Homo sapiens: one gene and its partners. The protein of the gene in region 5 interacts with the protein of the main gene of each other region in a pairwise test. Each region holds a gene or a part of one and is shown on either strand. Other genes may lie near its edges. The genes, in order: MFF, DHRSX, SFT2D1, SLC39A6, RETREG3, CMTM7 and STAP1.

Evidence for each region.
Region 1: the proteins of RETREG3 (region 5) and MFF interact in binary tests that used the Homo sapiens proteins (3 or more experiments, as listed by UniProt).
Region 2: the proteins of RETREG3 (region 5) and DHRSX interact in binary tests that used the Homo sapiens proteins (3 or more experiments, as listed by UniProt).
Region 3: the proteins of RETREG3 (region 5) and SFT2D1 interact in binary tests that used the Homo sapiens proteins (3 or more experiments, as listed by UniProt).
Region 4: the proteins of RETREG3 (region 5) and SLC39A6 interact in binary tests that used the Homo sapiens proteins (3 or more experiments, as listed by UniProt).
Region 6: the proteins of RETREG3 (region 5) and CMTM7 interact in binary tests that used the Homo sapiens proteins (3 or more experiments, as listed by UniProt).
Region 7: the proteins of RETREG3 (region 5) and STAP1 interact in binary tests that used the Homo sapiens proteins (3 or more experiments, as listed by UniProt).

The regions. Positions count from the first base shown.
Region 1 is NC_000002.12:227,352,751-227,356,250, forward strand, and holds part of MFF (mitochondrial fission factor), read left to right. Parts: intron 1-2,926; coding exon 2,927-3,011; intron 3,012-3,500. UniProt on the Homo sapiens protein: Plays a role in mitochondrial and peroxisomal fission. Promotes the recruitment and association of the fission mediator dynamin-related protein 1 (DNM1L) to the mitochondrial surface.
Region 2 is NC_000023.11:2,263,477-2,266,976, forward strand, and holds part of DHRSX (polyprenol dehydrogenase), read right to left. Parts: intron 3,472-3,500; coding exon 3,264-3,471; intron 1-3,263. UniProt on the Homo sapiens protein: Oxidoreductase that plays a key role in early steps of protein N-linked glycosylation by mediating two non-consecutive steps in dolichol biosynthesis.
Region 3 is NC_000006.12:166,319,228-166,322,386, reverse strand, and holds the end of SFT2D1 (vesicle transport protein SFT2A), read left to right. Parts: intron 1-2,130; coding exon 2,131-2,170; 3' UTR 2,171-2,659; downstream 2,660-3,159. UniProt on the Homo sapiens protein: May be involved in fusion of retrograde transport vesicles derived from an endocytic compartment with the Golgi complex.
Region 4 is NC_000018.10:36,108,031-36,110,185, forward strand, and holds the end of SLC39A6 (zinc transporter ZIP6 isoform 1 precursor), read right to left. Parts: intron 1,716-2,155; coding exon 1,563-1,715; 3' UTR 501-1,562; downstream 1-500. UniProt on the Homo sapiens protein: Zinc-influx transporter which plays a role in zinc homeostasis and in the induction of epithelial-to-mesenchymal transition (EMT).
Region 5 is NC_000017.11:42,599,375-42,602,874, reverse strand, and holds part of RETREG3 (reticulophagy regulator 3), read left to right. Parts: intron 1-3,500. UniProt on the Homo sapiens protein: Endoplasmic reticulum (ER)-anchored autophagy regulator which exists in an inactive state under basal conditions but is activated following cellular stress.
Region 6 is NC_000003.12:32,440,353-32,443,852, forward strand, and holds part of CMTM7 (CKLF-like MARVEL transmembrane domain-containing protein 7), read left to right. Parts: intron 1-1,487; coding exon 1,488-1,661; intron 1,662-3,500.
Region 7 is NC_000004.12:67,561,727-67,565,226, reverse strand, and holds part of STAP1 (signal-transducing adaptor protein 1), read right to left. Parts: intron 1-3,500. UniProt on the Homo sapiens protein: In BCR signaling, appears to function as a docking protein acting downstream of TEC and participates in a positive feedback loop by increasing the activity of TEC.

The DNA of each region.
Region 1 (3,500 bases), on a different chromosome or scaffold from region 5:
GGCCAATTAGTATGAGGGAAAATGTTTAATAATTATGGTATGATGTGAACAGCTATTTTATTTAAGTGTAGTGTTAATAGTTTATAGGTGGTTTATAATAATTTACATGCTAAAACAGAAAAAAGTCTTAAATCTTATTTTATGTACATCATTTTAATGGTTGCCTGAATTGTGCCCAGCATTTCCTTTTAAGTTGTTAATTATCTGGAATGTTACTTTTAGTGTGTGAACAAACCTGTCTTTGTTTGTAAGGCTTCATCTTAAATTGGGAGAAATCAGCATTAACAACTCCACAGTTTGGGAAGGTACATATTTAGAAAGGAAATTTAGTTTTAAGCATTTTTATCATCTGTTGATTTAAGGCCTTCTCTCTTATTTTTGCCCTTTTTACACTTTCAGACACGCGTAGGTTGAGCGTTCCTTTCTTCCTGACACGCACAGAGGCTGGCAGAATGGCACATACAAATACATGCAGTTCTTAAGTGCCAAAATCCCCATTTAGTTTTCCTATAGTCTGGAAAAAATCAAAAACTTGTTGGTATTCACAGATGCTATTACTGTATAATTTTTTCAGTCAGTTTTATTTAAGCAGAAATATATTGTCGGTAGCAGTAGATTTAAAACTGGCAGCATCGTTTCTGTGCTTAGAAGTTGGTGCATTCATTGAAGCAAGAGAAAAGGGAAGCATTAGCTGCTCATTAAAATTGAATTCATGGTGGAGGAATTGAAAAGCGTGCCTGTGGTAATCCCTTACCACTCTGCTGACTTGTTTCTTTTTACAATCTTAGTTCAGTTCATTGTCGTTTTCCCTTATATTTTTCTCTAAGTTTGTGATCTTTTATCTTTCTGTCAGAGTATTTTCAGCCAGTGGTCTAACTTAGCATTAGAGTTTTTTAGTTCTAATAAATACGGTTTTTGTTTAAAACACAATGTAAAGTAACATATTTTTGTTTTAAATTGAAGTATATAGGTAAAATCTTTTGTCATATCCTTATATTTCTTTGCAAATCGAGATTTCAGATATCTAAACCTTAGTTAATTCAGGATATAAATTGTGAGTAATCGCTTTCATTTGTACTTCATTCTGTATGTTCAGTTCAGATCCCTTTAACAATTGCTTCTGTTTGATTTTTTTCCTAATTATTCCTCTGTTATGTGGCCTCAGAGAAAGAGAAGAGTTTTATTTTGAGGATGAAGTGAAGGAAAAGGGAATCTTCTACCTTTATTTTTTCCACTAATCATTTGTAAACCCATAGTTCCAGCATCTACTAACTTAGAAGTTTACTTCTCTAACTGGTATAATTACCCTAACTGCTCCAGGTTGTTTACTGTGTTCTCATGAAATAAGGAGACAGTTAATGAGAAAGCAGGATAATTTAGCCATAGAAGGAATATTTGGAGATGGTTGTAGATTATCTAGAGTCAGTACACACCATCTATTGTTTAAGGTTTTTTGCATACTTTATTAAAGTATTTTTATTACTTTTAACAATATTTAAAACAAAAGGATTTTCTGAGTAGACTTGTCTTTAACATGTCTGGATGAAAAGTATAATTCTGCTTCATATCCCTTTTTGTGGGTATGTACTTTTTGTAGTGGGGACTTGCTGGGATAGGTATTAGAATAGATGATCCATTTGCCAATTCTCTGGACTACACAGGAATAACTTTTAATTTAGTTTATTTATATTCTGCTCATTTAGAAAATTTACTATGCCATTTTACTAAAATAACCATTTAGGGTATAAAATACATGTGAGGTGAATTATGTGGTTATATAAGTTGTATCTCAATGAAGCTATTAATTAAACTAAATTTTAAAATGTGGAAATCCAGGCAAAGAAGAGGAATGGCGTTTGTCTTTGTTTTTCAGAGGTTTAGTGTCATTCACCTAGAAATTAGTGCCGCTTTAGAAGTAACTACATTGGAACAAAAAGTACTTTTTTAATATGCTTTCTCTGGATTTTGTCTTAATGGTTTTTCAGTATTATTTTATACACAGCATTTTATTCATTATTGGGCCAATTCTGGAGCTAAATGTAGTGGTAAGATGTATTCAGGAGATTTTATAATTGTTTCTGCGGGAGAACACAGTAGAGCATAAGTAATTGGAAATAAGTAAAGAATAGGCCAGGCGTGGTTGCTCAGGCCTGTAATCCCAGCAATTTAGGAGGCTGAGGTGGGTGGATCACCTGAGGTCAGGACTTTGAGACCAGCCTGGCCAAAATGGTGAAACCCCATCTCTACTAAAAGTACAAAAATTAGCCGGGCATGGTGGCAGGTGCCTGTAATTCCAGCTACTTGGGAGGCTGAGGTAGGAGAATCACTTGAACCCCAGAGGTGGAGGTTGCAATGAGCCGAGATTGTGCCATTGCACTCCAGCCTGGGCAACAAAAGTGAAACTCTGTCTCAAAAAAATAAAAAGACAAGAAGTAAAGAATAAAAATGGCAAGACAAGAGGCAGTGAGAAGAGGTGATGAGTCTTTCTTTTTTTAGAGTTAGTCTACTTTGTGTTCCCTGCTAGTGAGTCTGTGCCTATGGGCTTACATATGGACATAAGTTTGTGTAAGAATTATATTTTGTTCTATCCTAAGTGGCAGCTCTCAAACCTTTTCAGCCAGGGACCCTTTTTAGCATCGCCAATCCTTCTGGCTTGAGAATTTTCTATGTGTTTCTTTAGTCAGGATTTTTTTCCCATTCTCCAGTTTTTAGTGCCCTTTTTCAATATTGTAGACAGTTGTCATTTTAAGCTTTTTTCTTTCCTTTATTAGTACAAATTCAGGTAGTAAAATATTTTAGTAATTCATATTATTAAGTACCAATTTTCTGAATACTACTTTGAGCATTACACAAAGCATGATGTGGCGTGCCATTTACTCTGAGTTCTACTTTACTATTCATTTGTATTTCTATCTCTTATCTGCAGGTATGGCATTTCAAATATAGATACAACCATTGAAGGAACGTCAGATGACCTGACTGTTGTAGATGCAGCTTCACTAAGACGACAGGTATTTAGTGTACCAAATAAGATATATTTCTCAGTTATATTCATACAATATTTTAAAGTGATAGTTCTCAACATTTTATTATTTTCTCTCCTGTGGGACTATCAAACTAGTAAGCCATCATTGATTTTCTCATTTTGATTAAAGATATATTAAACTACCATTTACATGTTTTGATCACCGTAAAACAGTATTACCAAGATAGATTAATGTAATTCTGGCCAGTAACAAAGAATCTTTAGCAAACCAGTACAGCCATCAGTTGCTTGTTTGGCTTTTGAAATGTGGAACAATTACTTTGGAACCTTTGTTACTGTGTTTAATAACTCCATTTTGGAAACCGCTCCTTGCAGCTTGCACAGCATCCCTGCATACGTATTTCCTGTATTCTGTAATAAATCCTTTCTTAGAACTGCAGTTGCACATGCATATTTTTTAATATGTACTCCCACAGCCTCGAGTATCACACAGACATACACACATGTGAAGAAG
Region 2 (3,500 bases), on a different chromosome or scaffold from region 5:
ATTTATAAGCCACCCAAACTATGGAATTTTTCTTTCTTTTTTTTTTTTTTTTTTGAGACGGAATTTTGCTGTTGTTACTCCGGCTGGAGTGCAGTGGCGTGATCTTGGCTCACCACAACCTCCGCCTCCCGGGTTCAAGCGATTCTCCTGCCTCAGCCTCCCGAGTAGCTGGGATTACAGGCGTCCACCACCACGCCTGGCTAATTTTGTATTTTTAATAGAGATGGGGTTTCACCATGTTGGTCAGGATGGTCTCGATCTCCTGACCTCGTGATCTACCTGCCTCAGCCTCCCAAAGTGCTGGGATGACAGGCGTGAGCCACCACACCCGGACTGCTGGATTTTTTCTTATATCAGCTTAAACAAACTAAGATGATTATTCCCACAGAGGAATCGTTTTTATCCTTAAGGCGGGGTTAGGAGGAATTCACAAGAGAGACCTGCTGATGGACAGACAGTACATTGCGTGTCGACAGGAGTCCACACCAATGCCACCTGCAGATGCAGTGCCTGACATTCCCATGGGGGCACAAGAGAAGGTTTAAATAGATCCGTTTTCCTTTTCTATGTCTCACCTCTGTGTTTCTTGTTCCTTCTAAAAAATAAAGTAACAATACCATCGCACATTGCTAAGTTGCCCAAGGACAGCAAATGGCTGGGGATGTACATATCCCACAACACAGCGCCAGGAGCACCTGTGCCCGGCAGATGCAGGCAGCACCATTTCCAGAGCACATGTGCCCAGCAGATACAGGTAGCAGTGTGCCCAGAGCACCGCTACCCAGCAGAAGCAGGGAGCACCGTGCCCAGAGCACCTCTACCCAGCAGACTCAGGGAGCACCGTGCCCAGAGCACCTGTGTCCAGCAGACTCAGGGAGCACTGTGCCCAGAGCACCTCTACCCAGCAGATGCAGGGAGCACCATGCCCAGAGCACCTGTGTCCAGCAGACTCAGGGAGCACTGTGCCCAGAGCACCTGTGCTCAGCAGACGCAGAGAGCACCGTGCCCAGAGCACCTGTGTCCAGCAGACTCAGGGAGCACTGTGCCCAGAGCACCTGTGCTCAGCAGACGCAGAGAGCACAATGCCCAGAGCACCAGTGCCCACCAGATGCAGGGAGCACTGTTCCCAGAGGACCATGCCCAGCAGATGCAGGGAGCATCGTGCCCAGAACATCTGTGCCCAGCAGATCCAGGGAGCACCATTTCCAGGGCACGTGCGCCCAGTAGACACAGAGAGCAGTGTGCCCAGAACACCTGTGCCCAGCAGACACAGGGAGTACCGTGCCCAGAGCACCTGTGCTCAGCAGACACAGGGAGCACCGTGCCCAGAGCACAATGCTCAGGAGATGCAAGGAGCACCGTTCTCAGAGCACCCATGCCCAGCAGATGCAGGGAGCACTATGCCGGGCACCAATGTGCAGCAAATGCGGGGGCACTGTGCCCAGAGCACCCATGCCCAGCAGACTCCAGGGAGCACCGTAGCCAGAGCACCTGTGCCCAGCAGATGCAGGAAGCACCAGTGCTCAGCAGACGCAGGGAGCACTGTCCCCAGAGCACCAGTGTCCAGCAGACACAGGGAGCACTGTCCCCAGAGCACCAGTATCCAGCAGACGCAGGGAGCACTGTCCCCAGAGCACCAGTGCTCAGCAGACGCAGGGAGCACTGTCCCCAGAGCACCAGTGTCCAGCAGACGCAGGGAGCACTGTCCCCAGAGCACCAGTGCTCAGCAGACGCAGGGAGCACTGTCCCCAGAGCACCAGTGCTCAGCAGACGCAGGGAGCACTGTCCCCAGAGCACCAGTGCTCAGCAGACGCAGGGAGCACTGTCCCCAGAGCACCAGTGCTCAGCAGACGCAGGGAGCACTGTCCCCAGAGCACCAGTGCTCAGCAGACGCAGGGAGCACTGTCCCCAGAGCACCAGTGTACAGCAGACGCAGGGAGCACTGTCCCCAGAGCACCAGTGTCCAGCAGACGCAGGGAGCACTGTCCCCAGAGCACCAGTGTCCAGCAGAAGCAGGGAGCACTGTCCCCAGAGCACCAGTGTCCAGCAGATGCAGGGAGCACTGTCCCCAGAGCACCAGTGCTCAGCAGATGCAGGGAGCACTGTCCCCAGAGCACCAGTGTACAGCAGACGCAGGGAGCACTGTACCCAGAGCACCAGTGTACAGCAGACGCAGGGAGCACTGTACCCAGAGCACCAGTGCTCGGCAGACGCAGGGAGCACTGTCCCCAGAGCACCAGTGTATAGCAGATGCAGGGAGCATTGTCCCCAGAGCACCAGTGCTTGGCAGACGCAGGGAGCACTGTCCCCAGAGCACCGGTGTCCAGCAGACGCAGGGAGCACTGTCCTCAGAGCACCAGTGTACAGCAGACACAGGGAGCACCGTCCCCAGAGCACCAATGCTCGGCGGACACAGGGAGCACTGTCCCCAGAGCACCAGTGCTCGGCAGATGCAGGGAGCACTGTCCCCAGAGCACCAGTGTACAGCAGATGCAGGGAGCACTGTTCCCAGAGCACCAGTGCTCGGCAGACGCAGGAAGCACTGTTCCCAGAGCACCAGTGTACAGCAGACGCAGGGAGCACTGTCCCCAGAGCACCAGTGCTCGGCAGACGCAGGGAGCACTGTACCCAGAGCACCAGTGTACGGCAGACACAGGGAGCACTGTACCCAGAGCACCAGTGTACAGCAGATGCAGGGAGCACTGTCCCCAGAGCACCAGTGCTTGGCAGACGCAGGGAGCACTGTCCCCAGAGCACCGGTGTCCAGCAGACGCAGGGAGCACTGTCCTCAGAGCACCGGTGTACAGCAGACACAGGGAGCACCGTCCCCAGAGCACCAATGCTCGGCAGACACAGGGAGCACTGTCCCCAGAGCACCAGTGCTCGGCAGATGCAGGGAGCACTGTCCCCAGAGCACCAGTGTACAGCAGATGCAGGGAGCACTGTTCCCAGAGCACCAGTGCTCGGCAGACGCAGGAAGCACTGTTCCCAGAGCACCAGTGCTCGGCAGACGCAGGGAGCACTGTCCCCAGAGCACCAGTGCTCGGCAGATGCAGGGAGCACTGTCCCCAGAGCACCAGTGTCCGGCAGATGCAGGGAGCACTGTCCCCAAAGCACCAGTGCTCGGCAGACGCAGGGAGCACTGTTCCCAGAGCACCAGCGTCCAGCAGATGCAGGGAGCGCCACACCGCACAGACAGAGGGAGATGAATAACCTTTAACCCACCTGAGATGCTGTTATGATTATTCACAGGGTGCACCTACCTGCTCTGAAGGTCATCCATGTTCAGCTCAGCGACGTAATGGGTGGCAGAGGAGACGGTGACCACCCTCGCACTGTGGCCAGGGGACCCAGACTCTTTCAGCGTATCCAAGAGAAGGTTGGTCAGCAGGAAGTGCCCTAGGTAGTTCAGGCCGAAATGTTCTTCGAATCCATCTCTGGTTTTCCTCTGAGGGACCATCATCACCCCAGCTGGACAAAAGAGAATATCAGAAGGAGTT
Region 3 (3,159 bases), on a different chromosome or scaffold from region 5:
AATAGCAGCTTGCCATGATAATGTCTGTATGGAAACATTTTGGCGACATGGAGCAGCTCTGTGGGGAGTATCCTCCCGCCCTGCTGCCTGGCGTGCACTAGGGAATGTGGATGAGATTCTGGACCCTTCCATGGCTTTAGGAGTTCAGAAAATAGGACACAGAGACTCCAGGAAAACAAATTCTACTTAAGAAAAGGAAGTTACGGCTGGGTGCGGTGGCTCACACCTGTAATCCTAGCACTTTGGGAGGCCAAGGTGGGCAGATCACTTGAGGTCAGGAGTTCAAGACCAGCCTGGCCAACATGGCAAAACCTCGTTTCTACTAAAAAATACAAAATTAGCTGGGTGTGGTGTGGGCGCCTGTAATCCCAGCTACTTGGGAGGCTGAGGTGGGAGAATCACTTGAACCCAGGAGGCAGAGGTTGCAGTGAGCCAAGATCGTGCCACTGCACTCCAGCCTTGGTGACAGAGCCAGACTCCATCTCAATAAAAAAGGAAGTTACTGGGAAAATGAGGGCTTACACATAAATGCTTATTTTTGGTCAGCAAAAACATTTTAATTGTATGTCAAGAGGTAACCGGCATTTTAAAATATTTTTCCAGAGAAATGTATTTAGCCGTGGAGGAGAAAACAAAACTAGTTCCAATTTTAAATCTGATAGATTTAGAAAAAGATTCTGGTGAGGCACAGCTTTGCCTGTTTGTGAAATTCAAAGATATGTTATATATTTAAAAACAGCAAAATTGTCTTTAATACGAACAGTGAAGGAAATTGGTAGAAATTTTATTTTTATTCCATTTCAAATGTATGATTCTTTCTGATAGATACTTACAAGGAGAAAAAGCAAAACAAAGTTAGCTACAGGTGAGAAAGCTGCTTAACAGGAGTGTGCAAGGGTAATTTACCATGCATAGGAACTTTAGAGCAAGGAGACCTCCAATACTTCTTGGTGCGGAGGAAAGGACCTCTAGACGTGATGTCCCATACAAGAGGCTCTGAAGAGATGGCAGGACTTCAAGAACATGACCAGCCTCTCCAGACACAGGATCCCACACTCGAGAGCAATAAGCAATGTACAGATTTTGCCTATAAGAATTTTATTAGTGGATATTTTTTATGGCCTAGGTAAAAGCTTTTTTAATGAATGAAGTATCAAGTAATAACAGTTTTGGAAGAAAATATGAAAGGTCACACTTCAATCTTCTTTTAATTCTGAGGATTCAGTTATAAACATTACAGTTTTGAAACTCAGTTCATTAGTTCTTTTTTTTTTTTGAGATGGAGTCTCATTTTGTCACCCAGGCTGGAGTACAATGGCGTGATCTCTGCTCACTGCAACCTCCACCTCCCAAGTTCAAGAGTTTCTCCTGGCTCAGCCTCCTGAGTAGCTGGGATTACAGGCACGTGCTGCCGCTGCCACGCCCAGCTAATTTTTGTGTTTTTTAGTAGAGATGGGGTTTCACCATGTTGGCCAGGCTGGTCTTGAACTCCTGACCTCAAGTGATCCACCTGCCTTACAGGCGTGAGCCACCTTGCCTGGCCTAGTTCTTTTTAAAAATTAAATCTTTGGGCTGGGCTTGGTGGCTCATCCCTGTAATCCCAGCATTTTGGGAGGCTGAGACGGGTGGATGGCTTGAGCGCAGGAGTTTGAGACCAGCTTGGGCATCATAGCAAGACCCTATCTCTATTAAAAAAAAAAAAAAAAAAATTAGTGTAGTGGTGTGCCCTATAGTCCCAGCTCCTTGGGAGGCTGAGGTGGGAGGATCTGCTCACGCCACTGCACTTATCCTGGAAGACAGAGTGAGAACCTGTCTCAAAAGGAAAAAAAAAGAAAAAAGTTAGATCTTTTGTTAGGTTATTTTTGGTATTTAAACTTATTTCTTTGATTGAGATCAGTGTATATGCCAGTAAAAATTTCTTAAGATAAATACCATGTCAAAAATCAGCAAAATGTTTTCAAATCTTAGCTCTTAATCTTAAATGATACTGAACAAAGTTTTTATTAATCAAAAAGTGTGTTGGAGCATCCATTGAGTTCTGTTAAAAAAGGTGATTTAGCAGGAACATTTTGCGCAACTTTGCTTTTGAGGAATATTATATTCTGTTTTTTTCCCTCTCTTTTCCACCAGGGATGCAGTTATTAAATGCTGTTCTTCTCTCCTAAGTTGAAAATCAGAAACTTGTGGAAAAGAGCACTTGAATGTTGGTACTCTATGTTTGGTGAAGTTTGCTTTTCCCCATAAAACACTCCAGGAACAACTGACGTGACAGTTGAAGACCGTTTTGTACTAAGTCTCATTTTGTATACTGGTAAAAACTACATGCTTGATTAAACCATTAAATGCTTGTAACTTTAAATTCATTATGTGTCATTAATATACTTTTCCAAAGATAAGATTTTTAATCACTGCCAGTTGTAAATTATTTTTAGCCAATTTTTAAATCTTTTCAAAGCAGCTTTGAAATGTGAATATTTAAAGGTAGACCTGTGCTGCAAGATAATTAAACTTTTTTGCTTTTAAAAAATGTCTGCATTTTTAAGATTTTTTTTACTTTAAATGTGAAACTTATTTTAAGCTAAAAATTGCTTATTATATGTAATAAAAATAATATATAAATCTTTACAATTTTGAAATAAACCCATCCTTGGAAAAATAACATTTTCTGAATCAAATTTATAATATTTTAAGTGACTCAATTCAATAATATTTAGTTTAGGCACTATACAGTCTCTCTGTAGAAAAATGAGGAAGATACAGTCTCTCCCCTAAATAATACTGTTAAATACAAATTGTGAGAGATAATGGGACTGACAGCAGAGCCCATTCCAGGAAGTGCAGGGGGAGGAGGTGAGGCGGCATTGACTGTGAGGGTGTCAGGAGAAGTCAGGCCACTGGACAGTAGTGGCAGCAGGAAGCTACCTTCACCCCAGGCTGGAGGAGAAGCAGAGAGGGCGGAGAACTAGCCAGCGCCCTCCTCCTCCCTGCAAGTCTCCCACTGGCTGTCCTGGTCTCCTCAGTTGCCAGGGAGAGGCAGATAGGCGGGTGCCAGCATGATGTGGTGCCAGCAGGAGGGAAGGCGGCTCTATGTCTGTCCAGGGTAGGGAGAGTTAATAAAGAGCATACAACAGGGTAATGGGAGCAGCATTTTATGCACAG
Region 4 (2,155 bases), on a different chromosome or scaffold from region 5:
GTCTCATCACAAGCTCTCCATCGTAAAAATCTTGAATTAAAACACTGACTCTCTTGAGAGTGTAGAATATTAATAATGCTTCTTCTACAGCTTTAGGTCCAGTTGTTAAAAAAAAAAAAAAAAAGAGAGACACCCGAAAACAAACTGTGGACCAATATTTTTTGAAGTGTCCTTTGTGATAAACAATTTAAAAATTGAATAAGGCCACCCAATACAATATTATAAATGAATTGATTAGTATACTACAATCCAGATGATAATTTAAAAATTCAGATAGCTCAATTTTTTAGGAACAGAAAGTAGAATGGTGGTTACCAGGGGCTAAGGGAAAATGGGGAGTTGGCGTTGAGTGGGTATAGAGTTTCAGTGTTGCAGGATGAAGAAGTTCTGGAGATTCATTGCACAACATGAATATACTTAAAACTACTGAACTCTACAGTTAAAAATGGTTCCAATGGTAAAAAAAATTTTTTTTTAAAAAGAAAACCAGACATCTGACGTCAAGCTGATATAAGGAATTTATTGTGTAAAAAAGAAACATCTAGAGAATGCCACAGACAGGCCTAGTATGGCTACAGTACCGTATATAAAAGACAATTGCTCACAATGATAGCACTGAAGCACTGAGAGATATCAAAGTACTTTCTGAATCGAATCAAATGATACTTAGTGTAGTTTTAATATCCTCATATATATCAAAGTTTTACTACTCTGATAATTTTGTAAACCAGGTAACCAGAACATCCAGTCATACAGCTTTTGGTGATATATAACTTGGCAATAACCCAGTCTGGTGATACATAAAACTACTCACTGTACTCATCTGGTATATACCCGCACGAACATTTTGAAATTCCAATTTCTTGGTCAAGTGATATATTGCTTGAATTCATTAAATATATTTAGATTTCTGTATTATACAAAGTTAAATGTACAACTAAATTAGTATATGAAAAGTGCTCACTACGTTTTTACGGGAAATAATCCTGACAAAAATGTTTAATGAATGTACTCTATACTAATTCTGCCTTTTTATACTTAATTCTAAATTTCTCCCCTCTAATTTACAACAAATTTTGTGATTTTTATAAGAATCTATGCCTCCCCAATTCTCAGATTCTTCTCTTTTCTCCTTTATTTCTTTGCTTAAATTCAGTATAAGCTTTCTTGGTATTTTAGGCTTCATGCACATTCTTATTCCTAAACACCAGCAGTTCTTCAGAGACCTAAAATCCAGTATAGGAATAACTGTGTTAGTTCTTGAAAAAGCATTAAAGACATTTTTCCCTGAAACATACAGAACATGTCATGCCAAATCTCTTGTTTACATAATAAACTGGTAATACCGGTGAATTGCACATACAGATTTTATCTCCAAGATAGAATAACTTAAATATTAAAACGTACCTTTAACTGACTTTGTAACAGACAGCAATATTCAATACAAAAATCACAAAACCCACTAACTTTAAACGCTGCATAGTACAGCATACAAACTCATCTCCCTATGACCTACTGAAACTATGACAACTTTTTAAGCTACTCTAGCATTTAAACCTTAACTAGAAATTTATACGAAACACGATTTTATGTTCAAATATGGAAATAAGTAACATAATTCCAAAACCCAAAAGCATCCCAGCATTCTGTAAAAAGAAATACCCCCAGCGGCTACATCCATGGTCACTAGCATCATTGTGCAGCATTTCAGGTACCTTTAAAAAAAAGTAAGGGAAAATAAGAGTGACATTTAAGTTTTTAGAACTACAGATTAGTTTTTAGAAAAATTTATAGGACAGTATACTAGCTTTATTTGTAGCTAGATATACTGTGAGTTAATTCCTTAAAACATGATTACATACATACTGACTCTAGCTAACAATGTCACACAGCATTTCCTAGCAGTTTAACAATGATTACTCATGATGTTCTGGGCAAGAAAAAGTTTGTATTGGTTCCAGTTTCCACTGGAAAATGAAAAGCGATATTGATTTTCCTACTTCAGTTACTGGCTGCATATCTGAACTGGATATAACATGTAGTTTGTCTTTAGTTCAGAGATAGAAAACCTTATACTATATAAGATACATATTGTCTTTGATTGCTTACAAAGTAAAAAATAAAAATAAAATAATAAAATACAATTTTAGCGGTA
Region 5 (3,500 bases):
ACCTCTGGGCTCAAGCCATCCTCCCACCTCAGCCTCTCAGGTAGTGGGGACTACAGGTGTGTGTCACCACACCTGGTTAATTGTTTTGTATTTTTCGTAGAAACAAGGTTTCACCATGTTGCCCAGGCTGGTCTTGAACTCCTGGGCTCCAGCAGTCCACCCACCTTGGCCTCCCAAAGTGCTGGGATTACAGGTGTGAGCCTCCACACCTGGCCTTAAGTATTTTTAATGATCATAATTAATTCTGGGGAAAATATGGAAAAATGGGCATATGGCTGATAGGAACATAAATTGGACAGCCTTTCTAGCAAGTAGTTTGGTAACATATTTTAAGCCACTTAAGAAGCTTTTCCAGGGCTGGGGGAAATGGAGAAAGAATACTAATGGGTATGGGTTTCTTTTGGAGTGATGAAAATGTTCTGAAATTACATAAGGCTATTAGTCGTACAGCATTGTGATTTTTTTTTCATCTCTGCTGCTGGCAGATGAATTGAAAGAGAATTTTATCGTATACAAACCATTATCTCAATAAAGCTATTTTCTTACTTTTTTTTTTTTGAAACGGAGTCTTACTCTGTGGCCCAGACTGGAGTGCAGTGGCATGATCTCAGCTCACTGCAACCTCTGCCTCCCAGATTCAAGCAGTTCTCCTGCCTCAGCCTCCCAAGTAGCTGGGACTACCGGCGTGCACCACCATGTCTTGGCTGATTTTTGTATTTTTAGTAGAGATGGAGTTTCACCATGTTGGCCAAAGTGGTCTTGAACTCTTGACCTCAAGTGACCCACCTGCCTCGGCCTCCCAAAGGCTGGGATTACAGGTGTGAGCTACGGTGCCCGACCAATAAAGCTATTTGTTTAAAATAGTTAATGCCTTTGACCCAGTAACATGCTCAGTGATGTATAGTTCAGCTTTTATTACATCAAAAAATTGGAAACTTTTGGCTGGGCGCAGTGGCTCATGCCTATAATTCTCAGCACTTTGGGAGGCCGAGGCAGGCAGGTCACCTAAGGTCGGGAATTCAAGACCAGCCTGACCAACAATGGAGAAACCCCATCTCTACTAAAAATGCCAAATCAGCCGGGCATGGTGGCGCATGCCTGTAATCCCAGCTACCTTGGGAGGCTGAGGCAGGAGAATCCGTTGAACCTGGGAGGCAGAGGTTGTGGTGACCCGAGATCGCGCCACTGCACTCCAGCCTGGGCAACAAGAGCAAGACTCCGTCTCAAAAAAAAAAAAAAAAAAAAAGTTGGAACCTTCTTAGTTTATTTTTCGTTTATTTTTCTTTTCTTTTTTTTTTTTGAGAGAGTCTCGCTCTGTCTGTTGCCCAGGCTGGAGTGCAGTGGCGCGATCTCGGCTCACTGCAAGCTCCGCCTCTCAGGTTCACGCCATTCTCCTGCCTCAGCCTCCCGAGTAGCTGGGACTCCAGGCGCCCACCACCACTCCCGGCTAATTTTTTGTATTTTTTAGTAGAGCCAGGGTTTCACCGTGTTAGCCAGGATGGTCTCGATCTCCTGATCTCGTGATCTGCCTGCCTCAGCCTCCCAAAGTGTTGGGATTACAGGCTTGAGCCACCGTCTTAGTTTATTTTATTTTATTTGAGATGGAGTCTTCCTGTGTTGCCCAGGCTGGAGTGCAGTGGCACAATCTCAGCTCACTGCAACCTCCGCCTCCCGGATTCAAGCAGTTCTCCTGCCTCAGCCTCCTGAGTAGCTGGGATTACGGGCACCCGCCACCATGCCTAGCTAATTTTTGTATTTTTAGGTAGAGATGGGGTTTCACCATGTTGGCCAGGCTGGTCTTGAACTCCTGATGTCAAGTGATCTACCTGCTTCAGCCTCCCAAAGTGCTGGAATTACAGGTTTGAGCCACTGCGCCTGGCCCATTCATTGTTTTTTTTGAGAGAAGGTTTCACTCTGTCACCCAGGCTAGATTGCAGTGGTGTGATCATGGCTCACTGTACCCTGGAACTCCTGAGCTCAAGTGATCATTCCACCTCATGGCTGATGAGACCACAGGAGTTCATCACCACATCAGGCTAATTGTCTATGTATTATGTGAAAAAGTTTTAAAACCATAGTGTTTTTATATGTGAATTTTTTAATGAAGAGAATAGCCTGTCTTCACACTTTTTAGAGTACATATGTGGATAATGGATCATTTTAAAAATATTTTATTATGGAAAGCTTAAAACATGTGTAAGTAGGCAGAATAATATTGTGTGCCACCATGTACATAATATTATTTTTTTCAATTCCTGGCCAATTTTGTGTCTTCCATACCCCAGTTCTTTTCTACGTCTTCCTTATTGTTTGACACAAATTATTGATGTGTCATATCATTTAATCTAGGTATTTCAGTATATTTTTCTGAAAAAGAGACTTTAAGAAACATCTGCCATCATTATCACATGCAAAAAATTAATGATTCTAGTCAGTGTTCACATTTCCAATTTTCTTATAAATGTCATAAATGATACTTTTTTTTTTCTTTTCGAGACAGGGTCTTGCTCTGTCTCCCAAGCTGGAGTGCAGTGGCACAATCAGAGCTCACTGCAACCTCAACCTTCTGGCTCTAGCAATCCTCCCACCTCAGCTTCCCAAGTAAATGGGAGTACAAGCGTGCACCACCACACCTAGCTAATGTTTTTCTTTTCAGTAGAGATGAGGTCTTGCTGTGTTGCCTAAGCTGGTCTCAAACTCTTTGACTCAAGTGATCCTCCTGCCTCGGCCTCCCAAAGTATTGGGATTACAGGCTTTAGGTACCACATGTGGCCTGTTGTGTGTGGTTTTATTTGTTGTTTTTTTTTTAAACTCTTTTTTTCCCCACAAACCAATTTGTTAGTGTTTAGGTGGTTTTTTCTGTTTTGCTTTTTTGTTTTTTGAGATAGGGTCTCGCTCTGTCACCCAGGCTGGGGTACAGTGGCACGATAACGGCTCGCTGCAACCTCAGTTTCCCGGACTCAAGCTGTCATCCCACCTCAGCCTGTTGAGTAGCTGGGATTACAGGTGCCCGCCACTATGCCCAGCTAATTTTTTGTATTTTTAGTAGAGACGGGGTTTCGCCATGTTGGCCAGGCTTGTCTCGAACTCCTGACCTCAGGTGATCCACCTGCCTTGGCTTCCCAAAGTGCTGGGATTACAGACGTGAGCCACCATGCCTGTACTTTTTTTTCGATAAACATGAATTCATGTTAGTTGTATAATTTTTTTTTTTTTTTTTTGAGACGGAGCCTTACTCTGTCACCCAGGCTGGAATGCAATGGCACAATCTCAGCTCACTGCAACCTCTGCCTCCTGGGTTCAAGCGATTGTCCTGCCTCAGCCTCCTGAGTAGCTGAGATTACAGGCATACACCACCACGCCCGGCTAATTTTGTATTTTTAATAGACATGGAGTTTCTCCATGTTAGCTAGGCTGGTCTCAAACTCCCGATCTCAGGTTATCCACCCACCTAAGGCTCCCAAAGTGCTGGGATTATAGGCATGAGCCACTGTGCCCAG
Region 6 (3,500 bases), on a different chromosome or scaffold from region 5:
CCAAGATCATGCTACTGCACTCCAGCCTGGGCAACAGAGTGAGACTCCATCTCAAAAAAAAAAGAATCACTCCTCCATAGGAGAGAGGCAGTGTATAAAATAATCTTTTTTCTAAATTGGTTGTGCATTTTAAATAGATTCCTGGCTGGAAACAATGGCTTACGTCCATAATCCCAGCACTTTGGGAGGCCAAGGCAGGGGGATTGCTTGAGCTCAGGAGTTTGAAACCAGCCTGGGCCACATGGCAAAACCCCGTCTCTACTACAAATATGAAAATTAGCCAGGCATGATGGCACACGCCTGTAATCCTAGCTACTTGAGAAGCTAAGGTGGGAGGATGACTTGAGCCCAGGAAGCAGAGGTTGCAGTGAGCTGAGATTGGTTCACTGCACTCCTGCCTGGGGAACAGAGCCAGACTCTATCTCAGAAAAACAAAAACTAAATAACTAAATAAATAAGTAGATTCTAAGATTTTACACACATTGAATCCCGTGTGTTACTGGTTTGTTCCCTACATGGAGTAGACAGGTTTTCTCTTTGGCCTTCACGGAAGCTCAGACTGTTACTCATTCTACTTTCTTGTACTCATGCATTGCTAATAGTTTTCATCTGGTTATTAATTCAGTAGCAGGCCGTTAAGCATGTTCACTCGTGCTGAGATATTTCTTAGTGAGCTCTCACCACATGCCCTGATGGTGAGCAGCCTCACCTCTTAAACAGGATTCCTGCATGGTTGAGAACCCGTCCACCTTTCTCGGCTTGTTATGATCAGAGCTTACACTTTTGGGAGGTAGAACTGCATCTGACATGGAGGAACATGGTCCTTAGAGTCAGACAGACCTGGATTCAAATCCCACTTCTGCTTACAAGCCAGATAGCCTTGGACTGATGATTGAACCTGCATGCCTCCGTTTCCCCTTATGAACATGGGGATGATTTTGTCTACCTGGCAGGGTTCTGCATGGCCTTAGCGAGATCACGTATGTCAGACATCAGTAAATGGTAACTTGTTATCTGTCAGTTGATAGCTGTAAGGTATGAATTACCATCTTTGTAGGTCAAAAACCATCAAATATTGGCAACTTCGTACAATTGGGCCTAATATGTAAACCCCAGGTCACCATCACGCTGTCCTCTTTGCTCTATGGATATCCAGCAGATGAAAGGGATGGTTCTGCTTTGTTATTTTCTTGTTTTCCTGCTTCTTCTGAGGGGGCTTCCCGCTGGCACAATCTAACAAACTTCAGAGAGGACGAAGTCAGTCTCTGCTGTCATCAGTGTTCACAGACAGTAGTTTCAAAGTGTGTACCACATGAAGTTGCAGTCTTCCAACCTTCCAGCCAGTGTGTATGGAAATAACCTGAATTGTATTAATAGCAGTTCTTCAATGTGGGCCTGCTGGGGGATGCTTGGTTGTTTTCCGTTGTTTGTTCCCTGGGTGCCCGTCTTGGGCAAGCATTTCTCTGATGTCTCTATTTATGTGGCAGGTCACCCTGCTGATTGCCTTCATCTGTGTGCGGAGCTCCCTGTGGACCAACTACAGCGCCTACAGCTACTTTGAAGTGGTCACCATTTGCGACTTGATAATGATCCTCGCCTTTTACCTGGTCCACCTCTTCCGCTTCTACCGCGTGCTCACCTGTATCAGCTGGCCCCTGTCGGTAAGAGAGTGGTCTGGCCCTGTCCTCCGCATGCACAAGTCAGGATGTTAGCTAGAGTACTGAGACCTGACAGAGTTTTTCCCGTCTGCCCATCTCACCTCTTTAACCATTCTTTGCTGCCTCTGCCCTGAATTTCCTATTGTTTGGTGGACATCTCTGCTTGATGTCCTGCTGGTTTTTAAAACTCACTTTCCAGCTACAAGAAGGCTGTGGCTGGCCGGGCGCGGTGGCTCACGCTGGTAATCCCAGCACTTTGGGAGGCTGAGGCGGGCGGATCACGAGGTCAGGAGTTCGAGACCACGGTGAAACCCCGTCTCTACTAAAAAATACAAAAAATCAGCCGGGCGTGGTGGCGGGTGCCTGTAGTCCCAGCTACTCAGAGAGGCTGAGGCAGGAGAATGGCGTGAACCCGGGAGGCGGAGCTTGCAGTGAGCCGAGATCGAGCCACTGCACTCCAGCCTGGGTGACAGAGCGAGACTCCTCTCAAAAAAAAAAAAAAAAAAAAAAAAAAAAAGAAGAAGGCTGTGGCTATTGCCCCATGCTTACTTTCTCAAGCAACAGAGAATGGCTGTGTGTGTATGAGTTGGGAAAAGGAACACGGAAGGAAATTGTAGGTGAAGATGATGGGTATTGATGCTGTTGTGAGGATTGAATGATAGGATTTTCTGGCTAAAAGAGACTAGTGGGGGCTGAGGAGACAGTCAGAAGTTGCCAGACTTTTTCTTCCCACTGTATTATTTTTTAAAGCTTCATTGAGATGCAGTTCATATGCCGTATTGTTCACCCATTTCAAGGGTACAATTCAATGGAGTTTAGTATATTTCCAGAGTTGTCCAACCATTACTACAGTCAACTTGAGAACATTTTCATCATTTCAGAAAGAAATTCCATACCTTTTAGCTGTCACCTCCCTACCACTCATCCCTCCAGTCCTAAGCAATCACTAATCTTCTGTCTCTAAAATTTTTCTACTCTGAACGTCTCATGTAAATGGAATTGTATATGTGGTCTTTTGTAACTGGCATCTTTCACTTAGCTGAATGTTTTCATGGTTCATCCATGTTGTAGCAGGTATCAGTATTTCATTCCTTTTTTTCTTTTTAGAGACAGGGTCTCACTCTGTCACCCAGGCTAGAGTGCAGTGACGTGATCGCGACTCACTGCAGCCTCAACCTCCCAGGCTCAGGTGATCTTCCCACCTCAGCCTCCCGAGTAGCTGAGACTACAGGTGCATGCCACCACACCTGGATAATTTTTGTGTTTTTTTTTTTACAGAGATGAGGTTTCATTGTGTTGCCCAGGCTGGTTTCAAACTCCTGGCCTTAAGCAATCCTCCCACTTTGGCCTCCCAAAGTGCTGGGATTACAGACATGAGCCACCATGCCAGCCTTTTTATAACCAAATTTTATTCCATTGTGTGGATAGACCAGACTGCATTTTGTTTTTCATTCATCTTCAGTGGACCTTTGGGTTGTTTTTACCTTTTGGCTATTATGAATAATGCTGCTATGAGCATTCATATACAAGTTTTTTGTGTGGACATATTTTCATTTTTCTCTGGTATGTATCTAGGAGGGGAATTACTGAGTCATATGGTCACTTTGTGTTTAATTGTTTGAGGAACCGCCAGACTGTATGCCAAAGTGGCTCACTGTTTTACATTCCCACCAGGAGTGTATGAAGGTTCCAGTTTCACAACATCTTTGCCAACACTTATTATCTGACTTTCTGATTCCAGCCATTCTAGTGAGTGTAAAGTGTTATTTCCTGTGGTTTTGATTTTCATTTCTCCAGTGACTAATGATGTTAATCATCTTTTCATGTGCTTTTGGCCATTTG
Region 7 (3,500 bases), on a different chromosome or scaffold from region 5:
TGACTAGTTTTTTTCACTCTGTTAAAAAATACTTGTACTTTCTCAATCTGACCTATAATTACATAACAAAATAATTAAAATTTATCTTGCAAGTTGTTTTGTTTCTTTGCTTATCCGACCAACTCTTTTTAAGGCTTCCCCACCCTGCATTAATGGTAAGCCTCTGCAATGAAAGGAGTAAATCAAGGCTCTCCTGTTTTTTGGAGCTGGGAAGCAGGTGAGGAACAGTGCAGGAGGAGATGGGAATGTAGAGAAATGCATATTGTTCTGAGAACTTTATCATCTGTGTAGTTTGTTTGTTTGTTTGTTTTGAGATGGAGTCTCCTGTCACCCAGGGTGGAATGCAGTGGTGTGATTTTGATCTCTGCTCACTGAAACCTCTGCCTCCCAGGTTGAAGCCATTCTCCCACCTCAGCCTCCCAAGTAGCTGGGATTACAGGCACATGCCACCATGCCTGGCTAATTTTTGTATTTTTAGTAGAGGCAGGGTTTCACCATGTTGGCCAGGCTGGTCTCGAACTCCTGACCTCAAGTGATCCACCCGCCTCAGGCTCCCAAAGTGTCATTTGTGCAATTTTACTAAAGTATGGCTTCTAAGATCTAGTCCAACTCCAGGATTGTATGATTCCTGGAGGAAAAAAATACAAGAGAAAACCCTGAAGTCAAAGCCTACCACTCTGTTCATCGTCCTAATCAGCCTCATAACTACAGTATTACCCTGCCATAAGGTATAAAAACTAGTATTACTGATAGCCAGTAAAGGTTTATTGAATTCCCTCTGTATGTACATGCAGACCTCCATTGCACTATCGAGAAAAATTGTAGAGGTGTTCAGTCTCAAAAGAATGATATGAATTGGGTAAAGTTAAATAGGGAAAAATGGGAGTTTTACAGGTAAGCAAACGTATATACTTGTGGAAAGGATTAAGGATTTATTAAATGGGGGGAAAAGCAAGTATAAAGGCACTAAGTTGAAAGCAAAGGCAGCCCTGGAGGAAAAGTAAGGTTACAAATAGCATTAGACCATGTGAACTGCAACCACAGCTGCAAACCTAAGGACAGACCAAACTTATATTCAGTATGCAGAGACTTACAGGTCACAATCTTGATTTCATTTCGATAAGATGTAATAAATACACATAGAATCTGAGTCATTTATAAATATCAATCTCAATAAACAACATCTAGGTACCTATTCATATCTAGAGAAATACTTAAAAATTAAAAAAATTAATTTGGAAGGACATATCTTTGGAATGAAGCACAAATTTCTTTTTTTTTTTTTTTAACAATCGTTTGTGTGAAATCATTGATGTAAGAAAAGAGGCTGAAATAAGACTTCTGAATTTATCACTAGCTTAACTAGGAAACCTACAATCAAATGGTAGAATTTGAGTTTGAGAAGCAGCATGGTCAAGTGCATCACAATCAAATCCAAGCTAGCCTCCTTAATGGAAGAGGAACCTTGAATAACCTCTGTGGCCAGAACTCACTCATTTGTTTATTTGGAGTTGTTGTTTTAGAGAGACAGGGTCTCGCTCTGTTGCTCAGGCTGGGGTGCAGTGATGCAATCATAGCTCACTGCAGCCTCGAACTCCTGGGTTCAAGTGATCCTCCCACTTCAGCCTCCCGAGTACCTGAGAATACAGGGTGTGCCACCACGCCTGGCTAATTTTTTGATTTTGTAGAAATGGGGTTTCGCTATATTGCCTAGGCTGATCTCCAACTCCTGGCCTCAAGCAATCCTCCTGCCTTGGCCTCCATAAGTGCTGGGATTACAGGGATGAGCCAGCATGCCTCACCTACTCACTCATTTGTGAAGTGAATAAAATAATTTCTACCCAGAAGAGTTACTGTAAGGATCACAGTGACAGAACACTAAGAGCCTAGAATGGGATCCATTATATGTTATACCTCAAAAGGTTGCATTCATTATTATATAGTCCACTTAGTCATTGGAGCAACCTATTCAGCTATGCAAGAGAGTAATTATTCTTTTTAGAAAGGAGAGAACAGATTTAAAAATGTGAAGGAATCGCCCAAATTCTAGAATTGGACTGATACTTTTATCTCTTGACTTCCCAGTGCTCTTTTCTCATTAATACAACTAGCAAAAATGAATTAACTAGCAAAAATGAATTACAATGCAAGCTCCAGTTAAGTTTCTCTTCCTCTGTCCCCAATAAAAAGCTCTCATTCTTTGTTTTTGTGCGCAAGTAAAGTACATTTACCTAAGGAAGAATGTTGTATAGTGGTCTCCAAAATGGGATGCATAAATTCCAAAGGTGTGCAAGATGATCCATTGGGAGAGAAAATTTTAGAATATTTAATTATATTTTATTTCATATTTCTTAATTCATTTTTTATATATCAAATAATTTACATGGATTAATAGTACGGGAATATATATATTTATAATTTCCAAATGAATTAATATTCTTTTTTTGTTGTTTTTGAGATGGAGTCTCCCTCTGTTGCCCAGGTTGGAGTGCAATGGCGCAATCTCCGCTCCCTGCAAGCTCCGCCTCCTGGGTTCACGCCATTCTCCTGCTTCAGCCTCCTGAGTAGTTGGGACTACAGGCGCCCACCACCTCGCCCGGCTAATTTTTTTTTTTTTTTTTTTTTAGTAGAGACAGGGTTTCACCTTGTTAGCCAGGATGGTCTCAATCTTCTGACCTCGTGATCCGCCCGCCTCGGCCTCCCAAAGTGCTGGGATTACAGGCGTGAGCCACCACGCCCGGCTGAATTAATATTCTTATATTAGGGATCTGTGCTCAAAATGTTTTCCTGAAAGGAGTGTGTTATTTTAAAATTTGGAGATTACTGCCATAGAGAACTGTGTGTGAGCACAACTTAGACAGCCCTAAAAAATTTCCTTTTTTTTTGAGACGGAGTTTCGCTCTGTCACCCAGGCTGGAGTGCAGTGGCACGATCTTGACTCACTGCAACCTCCGCCTCCCAGATTCAAGCGATTCTCCTGCCTCAGCCTTCCGAATAGCTGGGACCGGGCCCGGCCCACACACACTGTTTTTTTTTTTTACTTTAGCACATCACAGATTGAAGAAATTATGAGACGTTGCCCAAACTATCTCTTATTTTCTTTCTTTTTCTTTTCTTTCTTTCTCTCTTTCTTTCTTTTTTTTTTTTTTTTTTTTTTTGACAGAGTCTCGCTCTATTGCCAGGCTGGAGTGCAGTGGCGCGATCTCGGATCACTGCAACCTCTGACTCCCAGGTTCAAGTGATTCTCCTGCCTCAGCCTCCCGAGTAGCTGGGACCACAGGTGCGTGCCACCATGCCCTGCTAATTTTTGTATTTTTAGTAGAGACGGGGTTTCGCCATGTTGAACAGGTTGGTCTCCATTTCCTGACCTCGTGATCCGCCCACCTGGGCCTCCCAGAGTGCTGGGATTACATGCATGAGCCACCGCTCCCGGCCCACCCACACTCTCTCTTATTTTCAAACGGTCCCAGAAAAAATGAGAAATTTTCCCATTTGTAAGA